Linked DNA regions of Homo sapiens: region 2 is reported to be linked to region 1. Evidence: microRNA targets listed by miRTarBase, many of them from high-throughput screens and not tested one by one. Region 1 holds a microRNA gene; the other region holds the end of a gene's coding sequence.
What was found. Region 1 holds the annotated microRNA hsa-miR-4755-3p (AGCCAGGCUCUGAAGGGAAAGU, at 1,789-1,810, opposite strand). A microRNA usually pairs through its seed, bases 2 to 8, with sites in the 3' UTR of a target mRNA and lowers its output. Matches are read on the target gene's strand: a 7mer-m8 pairs with bases 2 to 8, a 7mer-A1 pairs with bases 2 to 7 and ends in A, and an 8mer does both.

Region 1 (7,119 bases):
CATTTCTCTCAGTATTGATTACTCTCTAGGCTGTCTGACAGACTCACACTAAATTGCCAATCTGCTTCTTAGGAGTCAGGAGTGAAAACATCAGAGTGGGTGAGAGCCTGGTGGGAGGCCTGTGAGCTGGGAGTTATCTGAATAGAGATAGCATACTGGCTGTGGGGCTAGACTCCTCACCATCATCTTGGAACATGGCTGGGAAATAGGTCCAAAGGGTCATTTGGACAGCAGATCCCAGCAGCCTCTGTATGAGATCTGTCCAGGAGACTAACCCCATTATATGGGATGGCAAGAGGGGGAGGTGACTGGAAATGAGAAATGGGACCAGGCTGACCAGCTACACTCTCAGATAGAGACTACCCTGACAAGGGCCTAGGCACAGACACAGAAGTAGTTGGGTGCAGGGCTCTCAATTCATCCTTCAACCCTGCCTGATATCACATCCTCATAACCCACATTGCTGTGGCCATCTGCTCCCTCTAGTTTCTGGCAGATTAAGGCCAAAAACAACAGCAAAGCATTTTTGGATCAAGGTCCTGCCTGGGGACAGAGAAGTAAATAATACAAGTCCCTGTTCTTAAGTAAGGCACTAGACCAAGACGGTTTGAGCCTAACTAGAGGCTCTCTTGCATAGCAAAGTCTCTGGCACATGGGTTATATTCAAGAATTGTTTGAACCGAACTGAATCAAAGGAACCTACATTCTGCAAGTTAAGAGCACCTGTTTGGTGTCAGGAGCCCAAGACTTCTAGATTCAATCCTGGTTCTGACATGTACAATTCAGGGACTCTGGACCTCAGTTTGCCCATCTGTAAAGTGCACTTTGTCTACCCCACAAGTTGCTATGAGTAGCCAATGAAGTAGTGGCTCAGTAAATGGCACTCTGTAAATGGCATGAGATGGAACAGCAGGAGCTGATGGGAGCACGGGCGCACATGATCTTAAAAGTTTAGAGTCCAGCCTGAAGAAGACCTGAAATAAGCTCCTTTCTTTCTCCCCAGTCAGCTTAGATCTGCTTTTCAAACACAGCAGACATTCTCTGCATTTCTGGTGACTGTGAAAAGGGGAAGGGGATAATTTGCCACTAAGTAGGGGATAGAAAGAAAGGTTGCCATCTTTATACTTTTCAAAATAAGAGCACGGGATTTGGATTTATAATCCTAACTTTTGTTAATCAAAAGCTGTGAAACTATGAACAAGCCTCAACCTCTCTCAGTTTCCTCATCTGTACATTGTGGGGAAATTTCCTAAGTCATAAGATTGCAGTTAAGGTTCAATGAATTAATGATGTCAAAAGTGTTTTGAAATCCACAAAATGCCAAACAAACGCCAATCATTACAAAGTTGTCTGTCTTCTCATCAGTTTACCAGCTACATAGGACAGTGGTTATTTACCATTTGACAGGTGAGATCATCAAAGCCCAGAGAAAGTGCTTAAAGTAACACACAGCTCAATTCTGACTTCTTACAGCAGAGGTAACTGTTCCTTTACTACAGGGGTTCTTAATTAGCCTGCTTGCCTCATTAAACTGACAGATCTCTGAGGGAGGGGACTACATACATCTTACACATTTTTGTACCCCAGTGCCCATCATGGCACACCTAAAAGATGTGAAGTGTTACTAGAATGATGACTAACATATTGGTAGCAGAAACATATCTAGAACTCAGGACTCCTAATCCCAGATCCAGGGTTCTTTACAACCATACAGTGGCCCAAACCTCATAGACTCGGCTTGCCTTAACATCTCATCTCTTCCTCAATTCTCCACTCTAGCAAGATTCAACTTTCCCTTCAGAGCCTGGCTTTCATAGATGCCAAAGCCAGGCTCTGAAGGGAAAGCTGAATCTGGCTTTCATAGATGCCAGTTCCTCAGCCATAACCTTCCTCATCTCTCCTTGCTGAGCTAATTCCTATCCATCTCTCAGACTTGGAGGCCTTTCTAATCTCTCCTAATACTGGGTCAGGTATTTACTTTCCTCCATGGCTGTTTTGTTTATCACAGAGTCCTGGCACACAGAATGTGTTAAAAGTATCTGTTGAAGGCTGAATGAATGAAACACTGGGTGTAGAAATCCAAAGGTGATGCAGAGAAAATTTTTTTTTTTTTTTTTTGAGACGGAGTCTCGCTGTCTCCCAGGCTAGAGTGCAGTGGTGCGATCTCGGCTCACTGCAAGCTCTGCCTCCAGGGTTCACGCCATTCTCCTGCCTCAGCTTCCCGAGTAGCTGGGACTACAGGCGCCCGCCACCACGCCCGGCTAATTTTTTGTATTTTTAGTGGAGATGGAGTTTCACCGTGTTAGCCAGGATGGTCTTGATCTCCTGACCTCGTGATCCACCTGCCTCAGCCTCCCAAAGTGCTGGGATTACAGGCGTGAGCCACCACGCCCGGCCGCAGAGAAAATATTCTTGACCTGGAAGTCATGCAGCCTGACTGATTCTAATTCTAACTCCACTACTAATGCGTTTCGTGATCTTGAGCAAGTCCCAGTTCTTCTTTGGACCATCTATAAATGAGTTACACAGTATGATCTCAGAAGGTCCCTCCATTGTTAAAAGCATATGAGACTTAGACTCATGTGAAGTCCTAGGGATGAGGAGATTCCAAAGCCAGCTATATGCTCCATAGCATAGGAGACCCAACACTCTCATCCCCCCAGGAGCACGAGAGACACACGACTCTGCTGTCAGGAGCCTCCCAGCCCATTGGTTTACTTAATTCCTCTTGATGAAGTGCCAAGAATAAATCGTAGGTGAGCAGCAGAGCATTTTAACGAGTCCAGAGCCTAATGAATCTTTTCCTTCCTGTGTCAATTAGAATTTCAAAGCTAGGATCCCCAAGGACCAATTTATTGGGAACAGAGAGAAGAAGCCTTTTGTTCATCAGCAGCTGCCTGAGCTACCTGCTCTGCTCCTGTATCTCTGCTGTGTAACAATCCTGCTTACTCAGATATAACATCTGGCACAATAAAGCCTGGCCTGGAGGCTCCTTCTTGCCCAACATTTCTGGGGTCTGAACTTGAGGAAGGAAACAAGGGTCCAGGGTATTTCTGAGGGCAAAGGTGGGGTTGGGGGTTGGTCAGGGAATCAGAGCAGTGCTGACGTTGCTGCTATCTCCTAGGGATACTGGCCTTCAAAGAGCTAACAGCCACAGATCACCAGGCTACTCACCCAACTAAGTATCTGGTACTGTGTGGCACCTATTTACCTGTTATTTTAAATCCTCACAACCTCAAAAGCAGATATCAACCACATCATTTTAGAGAAAAGGAAAAAGAGGATCTGAGAGCTAAAGGATCAGCCTAAGGAACACAATTATTACAGTAAATGGCAGAGAAGGATTTGAACTCAGGTCTGTGCGACTCCGAAGACTAAAGCTCTATCAAACCAATACAACTCTGCCAGGAGCTGATGTCTTGAATGGCAGAGATGGCCCATGGTCAGCCATAGACACATTAGGCATTTGCCACCAACACACTGTCTTTTGCCCGGGCACATGCAAGAGTGGCTGCGCATCACCAGTCCTTCCATTCAATGGAGCTGGCAATCCTCCATCCCTAGAAGATAATCCAAGCAGAGTCACCATCAACACTGCCCCCTGCTCCTACCCCAGAAACCTTTTATTTGTGAGGAATTTCCAATTCTTGATCTAATGGCTCCCATGCACCCAGTTCTCCACCTCCCATACTGTCCGCTCTAAGTCACACAGGGCCAGCCCAGGTACTACTGCTCTGTATTCAACAAAGACACATTTTCCAAGGTCAGCAGATTAGCAAGTCAGGTTTCCAAATGTAACTAGTGTTGAATTTTAGGGCTCTAGTGTGAAAAACACATTAAGAATAGAGGTCAAGGCCAGGCATGGTGGCTCACACCTGTAATCCCCCCACTTTGGGAGGCCGAGGTGGGAGGATCACCTGAGGTCAGTAGTTCGAAACCAGCCTGACCAACATGGAGAAACCCCATCTCTACTAAAAATACAAAATTAGTCAGGCATGGTGGCACATGCCTATAATCCCAGCTACTCAGGAGGCTGAGGCAGGAGAATTGCTTCAACCCAAGAGGTGGAGGCTGCAGTGAGCCGAGGTCACACCATTGCACTCCAGCCTGGGCAACAAGAGCGAAACTCCATCTCAAAAAAAAAAAAAAAAAAAAAAAGAGTGGAGGTCCAGTGACTTGTCCAAGTTTACACAGCTAGAAAATCACAGAGCAACAACTGGAACACAGGTATATACTGAATCCTAACCTGGCCTCTATCTACACACAACAAGAATAACAAATATATAAAAAATGAGATCAGTGCTTTTTAAAAATTAACTTTTTATTTGGAGACAACTATGGAATCACTTGCAGTGGTAAGTCCTTTTAAAAGCACTGGACACTTAGCAAAGTGCCGGTCACACAGAAACCCTCCCAAGAAATGTTACCTATTAAGTATTACGAAAAAGGCAAAGGGCATTCAGAAGGCACCTTTGAGGAGGAGTGAATAAGAGTTTCTCTTTACCCAATGCTTAAAGTATGTACACATACAATACCTTAAATAATCCTTCCAATGACCCCATGAAGCAGGTGTTAATAGCCTCATTTACAAACAGGAAAACCACTCCCAGAAGTCAAGTTACTTGTCTAAGATTTCTTTGGTCCCAGCATGTGCCAAAGCTGGGATTCAAATCCAACTATATCCAACTCCAAACTTTATCCTCTTTCCACATTGCTTCTTTGGAGATAAGACTGGGGCTGGGCTTCAAAGACAAGCCTCCTGGATACAGACCTGTGGTTAAGAGCAGGCTGCCAGTTCAGGTGTGGAAATAATAGCATGAGCAAGGATGCAGAGTTAGCAACATGTCTTTGCAGAGGGTAGTAGTTCAAAGACACCGGCCTGAATCAAACAGTAAATTCACATGACAAAGACCAAACAAAAAGCTAAAGTGAGGGCAGGTGGCATGGGGTCCTGGAATGCTGCTAGCTGCTTGTGTCAATTACATGGGTCACAACTTGATTCCCTTCCGCTGGAAACTGTAAGAAAAGGGGAACGGCACACAGAAAATGAAGAGCCAGACACCAGACGGCAAGAGAACTGGGGAAAAGAAATCAAGTTTTACTCCTAACTAGGTAAGTAGCCTTGAGCAGGCCAATTTCCCTCTGTGGATTTCTAATACCAGGGATTTAACTAAAAGATGTCCAAGGACCACTCTAGCCATGACCTTCCAGAAATCACTCTATTACCAAATCATGTGAGCAAATGTAGGTCTGAGAAATGGGAGAGAGCTACATGAGGGAGAAGAAAATGAAGGTATTAAATGGGATTCAAGTTAATATTGGCCAAAAGACAGAAGATGGCAGAGAGCAAAGGAAGGGAGCCTGAACCAGAACGTTCCCAATCCTGGCCTGGCTCATAACTTGCTGTGTGATCCTGGCTACATGCCAACTTCATTTCCTCATCAGCCCAATGGACCTCGGGGCCCTATGTTCTGGCCTCAGCTGCCCACTCTCCAACCTTATCTCCTGCCTCTTTCCTCTTTACTGCTGCTACTCCAGCCACACTGGCTGCCTTCTAATTATTCTACAAACATGCTCTTGCATCAGGGCCTTTTCACCTGCCCTTCTCTCAGCTGGTAATGATCTTCCTCCTTAGAGAGGTCTACTCTGGCCACTTTTTAACATTTTACTCCTGCTTATCTTTCTTCATAATGCATATAGAATTACATAATTGATTTACTAATTTTTTCATTGTTTTCCCCATTAAAATAAGTTCTACGCTGGGCACAGTGGCTCATACCTGTAATCCCAACATTTTGGGAGGCCTCCGAGGCAGGAGGATCGCTTAAGCCCAAGATGTTGAGACCATCCTAGGCAACGTAGGGAGACCCTGGCTCTACAAAAAAAAATTTTTAATTAGCTAGGTGTGGTGGTGCATGCCTGTAGTCCCAGCTACTCAGGAGGCTGAGGTGGGAGGATTGCTTAAGCTCAGGTCAAGGCTGCAGTGAGCCACGATCATGCCACTGCACTCCAGCCTGGGTGACAGAGTGAAACCCTGTCTCAATAAATAAATAAATAACAAGTTCCATGAAGGCAGTCCTTGTTTTGTTCATTACTGTATCCCAGTTCTATGGGCAGTATCAGACATCTGTTGAATGGATAACTGAATGTATGTAAGTATAAACACTGTCCCTAAGGTCCCTTCCAATGCTGGCTTTCTGTGACTAACTTACGGGCTTGTGGAACTGGGGAACATCTCAGGAGCTCCAAGCCTAGGTAAGCTTAGGTCCAATCTGTCCTTCTGGCTTCAATTTTTGATATTTGCTTGGCCTCAATGGTTCTTCAAATGTTAACACACGTCAGGTGTGGTGGCTCACGCCTGTAATCCCAGCTTCGGGAGGCCGAGGCAGGCGGATCACCTGAGGTCGGCCGATCACCTAAAGTGAGGAGTTCAAGACCAGCCTGACCAACATGGAGAAACTCCGCCTCTACCAAAAATACGAAATTAGCCGGGTGTGGTGGTGCATGCCTGTAATCCCAGCTACTAGGGAGGCTGAGGCAGAAGAATCACTTGAACCTAGGAGGTTGCAGTGAGCCAAAATCACGCCATTGCCATTCCGGTCTGGGCAATAAGAGAAAAACCCCATCTCGGAAAAAAAAAAAAAGTAACGCACATACCAACACACAGCTACATACTCGTACAAATAGACAAATATATATCACCTAATTAATCAATTATTGTTGCATGCTATGTGTAAAACACAGTACATACACAATAGCCTCCAATATTATGTCCTTCAGAGTTTGACCCTAACTTACTTTGGTAACTTTAACCCTAACCACAGTCCTATTCCTGAACTCTTATACTCTGGCTACAATGGACTGTTTTCCCTTCTCTGAAACACCCACATAAGCTTCTGTGCCTCTGTCCTCACTGGTCTTTCTGCTTGGAAGTTACAGTCTCCCCTTCATAATTACCAAATGCCTCATCTTTGAAGTCCAACTCAAATATTACCTCTTCTGGGAGGTATTCCTTCATCTCTCAGGTAGTGGTCCCCTCCAAGCTCCTAAAGCACTCTCTCCAGGTTTCCATTCAGAGTGATTATCGCTCTAGCCTACTTACTTTACCTTCCTGTCCTT
Region 2 (7,119 bases), not on the chromosome of region 1:
GTGGAGCTGCGGAGCTGAGGCCTCACCGTGTCTTGGCCCACCCTGCTCAGCTGATAGGAAGGTGTGTCACCTCTTTCCTAATCGGGGAAAGAAAGGTATTGTCACTTCTCAGAATTGGAGAGCGCGGCAAGGAGTGCACAGGGCCAGGTGTCTTCTCGCTCCCACAGCCAAGCAGCAGATGCAGAGTCCCACGCGCTGCCTGTGGCCATCAAGTCGATATAGAGCCTCGTGGCGGCTTGGCCCTTGTGAATCTTCCACGTATCGATGGCGCACCTACCTTGTGCCAGGCGCAGCGGATCCCACAATGTAAAAGAAGAGGAAATACACTGCGACATGTGATATGGAGAGACATGAAACAAATCAGCAGAGGCAAGATCATGGAGTCACTGAAGGCTTTCAAGCAAGGGATTATTAGCAGCCCAATTTGCTGGGTTTTAGAAAGACACCGGCTGCACTGTGGCCGACAGAGGAAAAGCCAGAGACAGGGAGATCCGCCCCCTAAATGGGAGAGGGTGGCCTGAACTAGAGTAACCGCAGGGAGGGTGGAGCGCTGATCATTTCAAGGATCTTCAGGAACTGAAATGATCAGAACTTGGGAATGACTGCATGTGCGAATAAGGGGGAAAAGTCAAGGAAATGCCCAGGTTTGGGGCCCAAGGAACAGGTTTGGGAGGCCGAGGTGAGGAGTTCAGCTTTGGACATAATGAGTTTGAGATGCCCACAGGACATCCAAATACAAATGTTAAAGGGGTAACTGAATATATGTGACTGGAGTTTGCGAAATCAAGGCTGGTGATAGAGATTCTGGAATCTTCTGAAAGCAGATGGCAATTGAAGCTATGGAAATGGATGAGAGAGTGTGTAAAGAGCACGAGGGCCCAGGTTAGAACAGCAAGGGCAGGTAGAGAAGTCACCAAAGGACACTGACCAGGTAGGAGTACGGTGTAACGGCAGCTAAAGAAGGGCGCTTCAAGAGGGAACATCAACAGTGATGAACACTCTGGAGAGAACATGTCACATGTAACGACTGAGAAGTGGCCACAAGATTTAGAAATCAGGGTGGTGGTGGTGACCCGGGCTACAGCAGTTTTAGTGGAGAGAAGGAAATGGAGATAATTGTAGAGAATAATCCAGTGACTTCACTGTGAAGGAGCAATTGGTATCTGGAGGGGCACATGACATTCAGAGACTTATTTTTATCATATTTGAAGATTGGTAGGAAAGAGCCAGGAGAAGAGAGGTTACAGCAGAGGACGGTTCCTGAAGAGGTAGGATCTGAGCTCAAGTAGAGATTGAGTTCTCTACAGGAGGCCTTAGACACTCCTTCCTTCCTAAGGGAAAGCTTAGGTGGACATGTAGCTGTGTTTGTAGGTTTGGTGATGGGAGGTGGAATTTCTTTCATTAACTAAGGCGGGGGAGGTGTTGAAGGTATATTGGGACTCTTGAGAATGGCAAAGGGCTGACTATTGCAACTCACCCAGCGGTAGACAGTTAAGGGAGACCGTGAAATCATCTATGATCCCAATCTATAGTTACCTTATTTTATTTTTGTTTATTTTTGAGACAGGGGGATGGGAAGAGCCTGTCGCCCAGGCTGGAGTGCAGTGGCGGGATCTCGGCTCACTGCAACCTCCGCCTCCTAGGTTCAAGCAATTCTCCCTGCCTCAGCCTCCAGAGTAGCTGGGACTACAGGCGCGCGCCACCACACCCATTTTTTGTATTTTTAGTAGAGACGGGCGTTTCGCCATTTCGCCCAGGCTGGTCTCGAACTCCTGAGCTCAGGCAATCCACCCACTTCGGCCTCCCAAAGTGCTAGGATTACAGGCGTGAGCTAGCGCCTGGCCTATAGTTACGTTACTTTAGATGCCTGGATTCACCAGCTAAGAAGTTTTTTTTTTAATTAAATTTTTTTTTGGCCCCAGTGCTACTACCAAAGCAGTCAGGAAGTTGAAGATAAGGCAGACAACTGGATTGATTCAGGTATATTTAAGTGGGTTGAGGGTTATTGATGAAATGGTTAAAGTTATTAAAGACCAAAGGTGGAGAGGGGTTGAGGGAGACCAAAAGTAGAGTCTAACTGGGTAAAGAAGGAAGTAAAGAAGAAAAGAACAGAGAGGACAAGGGGCTGCAGTCTTAGGTTCAATAACGGGTGTAACTGGAATGTGAGTGAGAGCTGGAAGAAACACCAAAGGTTGTGGCCAGAGAGTGGGATGTCTGAATTTCCTATTTCAGATGTAGAGCAATTCCACATCATGATAGGGTATATGGTGTGGCCATGATAAGGAATGGTGAAGGTTGCTGGAGGTAAAGAAGAAACTGGAAACCTAGGTGTAGCTGGGTTGTCCACATGGCCACTGAGGCCATGCAGTATAAAGGCTTGAGCAGAAGAAAGTGAGCCAGGTGTTAAACCAAAACCATATTTCCCTTCTTTGAAATCAGTTAAGAATTGAGGCACAAAAGCTGAACCAGCATTATATAGCAGTCATTTGTAGAATCTGCTTTGGGTGAAGTCACGTCAGCCTCAATTAGAGGTTTGGCAGTTGTCATGGAAATAAAGGGGACGTCTGTGAAGGTGAGTTACGATGGCATCTGGCTAGATGGGTGAGGAGAGCTAAGAGGTGCTCTGCTGTGAACCATTCAGCCTTTCCCACACGTGACTCAGGAGTAGGGGATATGAGGACTTCATTGCACCAGTGGGGAGGAGAAAAGCCATCCGCCCCATGTGCCACCAAACTGTGCACCTGACTTGTTGCTCCTGCCCACATCCCTGCCTCCTGAAGGGAGAGAGAGGCAGAGTGGGAAGACATATTGCCTAATGGTGAGGGAAAACACAGGGACTGATTCAAATGGCAGGAAACCCCTTGTAAATGTTTGTGGTGGTTCACATTTTATTGAGACAGGATCTCGCCATGTTGCTCAGGCTGGTCTCAAGCTCTTGGATTCAAGCAATGCTCCTGCCTCAGCTTCCTCAGTAGCTGCGCAACTACAGGCCTCATTTTATCTTGTTTTAAATAGAGTCCCACTTAAAAACTCGCAATGGAGAAACAGGAAAAGGGATTTTTAAAAGCATATAAACTAGGTGTATGTGAATAAATACACAGTGTAGCTCTGGGGCTGGTTGTTGGGGCTGGGATTGCGATGGTACCATCCTTCTTGTGAAGGATGTGTTTTTTCTAATTGGGGGATAATTCCAGGTCTCGAATCTGGATGACTAGAACAGGAAGTAGAAAGTGGTTTGAAGAAGCACTAAAAAGTGGGACAATGTTTCAAACACATTGCGCATATCACATTGAAGACCTTGCTCTCTTTAATGTCTTACAAGTTTATTCCCAGGTTAAAAATAATTTAAAAAAAAAACTAGTTACTACTATCAATACTCTGATAATGCAAGTAATCTCGATTTGTTGGGTAGATACTGGAATATCACACTTTCTTAAAATAGTATATTTTACAGTAAATATAGATTAGTCAAGTATCTTTCTGGGTCTCAATGCAAAGTTTGAGAATAGTGACATGTTATTTTTGGACCCAGCAAAATATTTTCTCAACTCTGTAAATGGGTTTAAATTCCACCTCCCACCACTTAATAAACTTTTTTTTTCCTGCCCCGACAGGATCTTGCTTTATCGCCCAGGCTGGAGTACAGTGGTGCAATCATAACTCACTGTAATCTTGGACCCCTGGGCTCAAGCAATCCTCCCCTCAACCTCCCAAGCAGCTACAACTATAGGCACGTGCCACCACAACCCAGCTAATTTTCTTATTTTTCAGAGACAGGGTCTATGTTGCCCAGGCTGGTCTTGAACTCCTGGCCTCAAGTGATCCTTCTGTCTCAGCCTCTCAAAGTGCTGGGATTACAGGTGTGAGCCACCGTGCCCAGCCTAGCTGACCTTTTAATTTCTTTGCCTGTGAAATGGGTACTTCCCTCATACTGATGCTGTGAGAAACAAGTAAGAATGTAGTAAAGTACTCATTGCAGAGCCTAGTAGTCACTTGGGTAGTTATTAATAAACAGCTGTAAGATGATAGTCACACTCTTAACAGTAAATAAGATTATTTATTGGATTCTCCCACATTCAACCTCCACCTCCTGATTAGAACAGGAGAAAAACCTGAGGCCACAAGAAATGATCAAGAAACAAAAGGCTGCGGCAGTTATCACTGCAGTTCCTATGAACTGGTTTAAATCAGCAATGAGGTATTTGTATTTTGTATTGCATTACTCCCATTAAGTTAAACCTCAATTAACTAGAACCTTTGTTCCAAAATGGTGTTGACAGCCAGGCGTGGTGGCTCACGCCTGTAATCAATCCCAGCACTCTGGGAGGCCAAGGCAGCTGAGGTCAGGAGTTCGAGACCAGCCTGGCCAACATAGTGAAACCCCATCTCTACTAAAAATACAAAAATTAGCTGGGCGTGGTGGTGGGCACCTGTAATCCCAGCTACTCTGGAGGCTGAGGCCGCATAATAGCTTGAATCCAGGAGGTGGAGGATGCAGTGAGCCGAGATTGCACCACTGCCCTCCAGCCTTGGCAACAGAGCGAGGCTTCATCTCAAAAAACAAACAAAAAACAAATCAAAATTCTGTTTATATTCACTTTTAGAAGAAAAAGGCAAATGACATAAAAGAGTTTTTTTTATATATATATATATTTATTTATTTTTAAAAACTCCAGGGGATGTCCCAAAGTTAGTAAACAGTTCTGTTTCTTGTCCCTTTTATGGCTGCATGCAGTTTCAATTGTTCAGTACAACAGATGAGGCATTTAAAAGGTCTCCAACGTCAAGAAACACTAACTCATCTCTGGCATATCATATTTTTTAAGGCAGAAGTATTTTCTGTAATGGTTACTACAGAGTGTTTACTGGTTAATTTTTAGTTAACCAGAACCACACATCCCATAGATAATTCCATTTAACTGAGGTTTATATCCGTAAGAGCATTACCATAGAAAAATTTCCCTTTAGCAATTTCAAGAGACCTCAGCCACCAATATACCTACCTTCTTTACAATATAAAGTGAAATATTACTTTAGATGAAAATTTTTTGTATCTTACTTAGAAAAAATTAAGTTGATATTTAAAAGAATTTTGATTTTTAATCACCTTCCACAACGATTTGATATACCTTAAACTCCACTTTCATTTTTTATAAGAGAATCACTTTCAAGGGAAAAAAATGGATGTTACTATATTTTAAAATCTGCTTTATAAAAAAGTGTATAAATATCAATCTGCCAGATATACTTCCTATCCCCAACACAGCTGTAACACTGACTAATGGGGTCATGACCATGAAGCAAATTTTACTTCCTAAATAGAAATGTGTAGGTGGCAGAAAGCGTATTTTTCAGCAGGAGTGATTCTGTTGGATCTCTTTACAATGTCAGAGCAGTTGTTAGAAATGTTAGTATTTTATTCGGTTTCTTGCTGTGAAGGATTATCACAATGTTGAAGTGATGGCTGTTCACCCAGTCGTCATCACCGTCATCATCTCAATCTTGGGAATCATCAGCAGTGTCCCCCACACAGAGAGACAGGTATAGTGGTGCAGTTTAGTGACAGGGAATCCAGTCTTAGATCCTGTTTATATCACATTTTTGTGAATTTACACAAAATTCCATTTATAGCTTTAAAACTGTACTACATAACACATTACTATACTACTACAAAATATCCTTCTCTATAAATGCACTGAATATTTTCTTGGGCATTTTATTAGGCCTTTTTTAGCATTATTACAAATGCTAACAACAAGATACTTCAAACCACCAAATATAAAGTCAGCTTCTTAATTTTCTGAAATTTAGTTATTTGAGTTAATAAGAATTCTGTAGGAATACTGACCCATCTCTTTTCATCCAACCTTCAAAATAGTTAAGCCTATTTGCCCATCTCACCTAACCTTCAAAATAGTTAAAACAAAAACAAACCCAAACTAGCTATATATAACAAGAATCTTTCAATTCCCAAACTATTGAAAGACCCTAAGTCAGCCAATCTATGAAATTATACAAGATGAAGGTGAAAAAGCTGTGCTTTTTTTTAAACCATTAAACCCAGTTCTTTTCTCTTAAAGTTGTAAGAAAATGGAAAATCTGTTTTTAAATCATGCAAAGATTTAAATAAGCATTTTTCTATCTGCTCTAAGAAACTGTTTCTTATCTTACAATTTTAAATATTCATAACACTCAAACTACTTTTTTGTGGCCATTTATGTTTTTGACACTAGATTGTATGGTATTATTTAGCCAAGATGTATTATAATGCTAAATTATGTATAAAATATGATTTCTGGAATTTGTCCATCTTCTATTGAAGTGCCATTATTATTGCCAGGGGAACTAAAAAAGAAAAAAACAGTCTTGCTTGCAGCAGGTGTCTCATGCACTACTTTCTTCAATCCTTTTGTGCCATAGTGGGAATCTGGACCCTAAATGAGAACAAAAGGTTCCTTAGTAATTTTCATTTAATAAGCACTCAGTTTAATGTGGTGTTTTAATTAGATTAATGTTCCATTATATTTCACTATCATTCCTATATAAAATTTTATGCTGTCATTTAGAGAAAAATGAAGTTTTTACCAAAAAACTAATTAATGAATAAAAATACTGAATGTACAGCCCAGCTATTAGAGAATAGTGAAAAGATTTTACAAAAATAACTTTTATTTTCTGCCAAACATTCAACTGCTTACTGAAACAAAGGGCTACTTCTTAAGAAGAGCTATTTCTTTCAGAACAGAGCTGTGGGGAGAAGTACTTCTTTTCGGAAGGCAGTGGAATATTTTAGCTCCCAGCTTCTTTTCCCCCCTCTTTATAAATGGCTCAGCTGTCAGTGACTCTCAGCTTCTAAAACACACATTCTGCAACATTCAAGAGGAAACCATCTGGAACATAGTGCATGACTCTTACTTTGAGTGTTGCACATGCTGTGTAGCACACATTGGGCAGGATCTCTATGGGTTCCTTGAACATGACCCTGAATGTGTTAGCTGTCCCATCACAACTAAAGCCGGTATCATTCTGTCCCAGGGTTTGCTTTTTCTCATATTCAATGATCTGTAATTTTTAAGAGACAAGTTACATTTAAGTTAAACCAAATAAAGCAAACTATAG

Region 2: the mRNA of BTBD1 is a reported target of hsa-miR-4755-3p. The part of its 3' UTR that is shown has no 7-base or 8-base seed match.

The regions. Positions count from the first base shown.
Region 1 is chr20:34,043,853-34,050,971 of GRCh38, reverse strand. It overlaps MIR4755 (microRNA 4755), which reads right to left and starts at 1,853; the gene lies at 1,782-1,853. The region is part of intron 2 of RALY (RALY heterogeneous nuclear ribonucleoprotein); the gene reads right to left. RefSeq lists an enhancer at 4,354-5,162.
Region 2 is chr15:83,011,792-83,018,910 of GRCh38, forward strand. BTBD1 (BTB domain containing 1) reads right to left here. Exons shown (of 8, transcript NM_025238.4): 7 at 6,916-7,062; 8 at 4,632-6,434. The coding sequence ends at 6,276. LOC124903542 (a long non-coding RNA gene) reads left to right here. Exons shown (of 2, transcript XR_007064742.1): 1 at 1-1,268. Among named protein-coding and RNA genes, the nearest start is that of C15orf40, 3.7 kb to the left of the region's middle. RefSeq lists an enhancer at 26-85.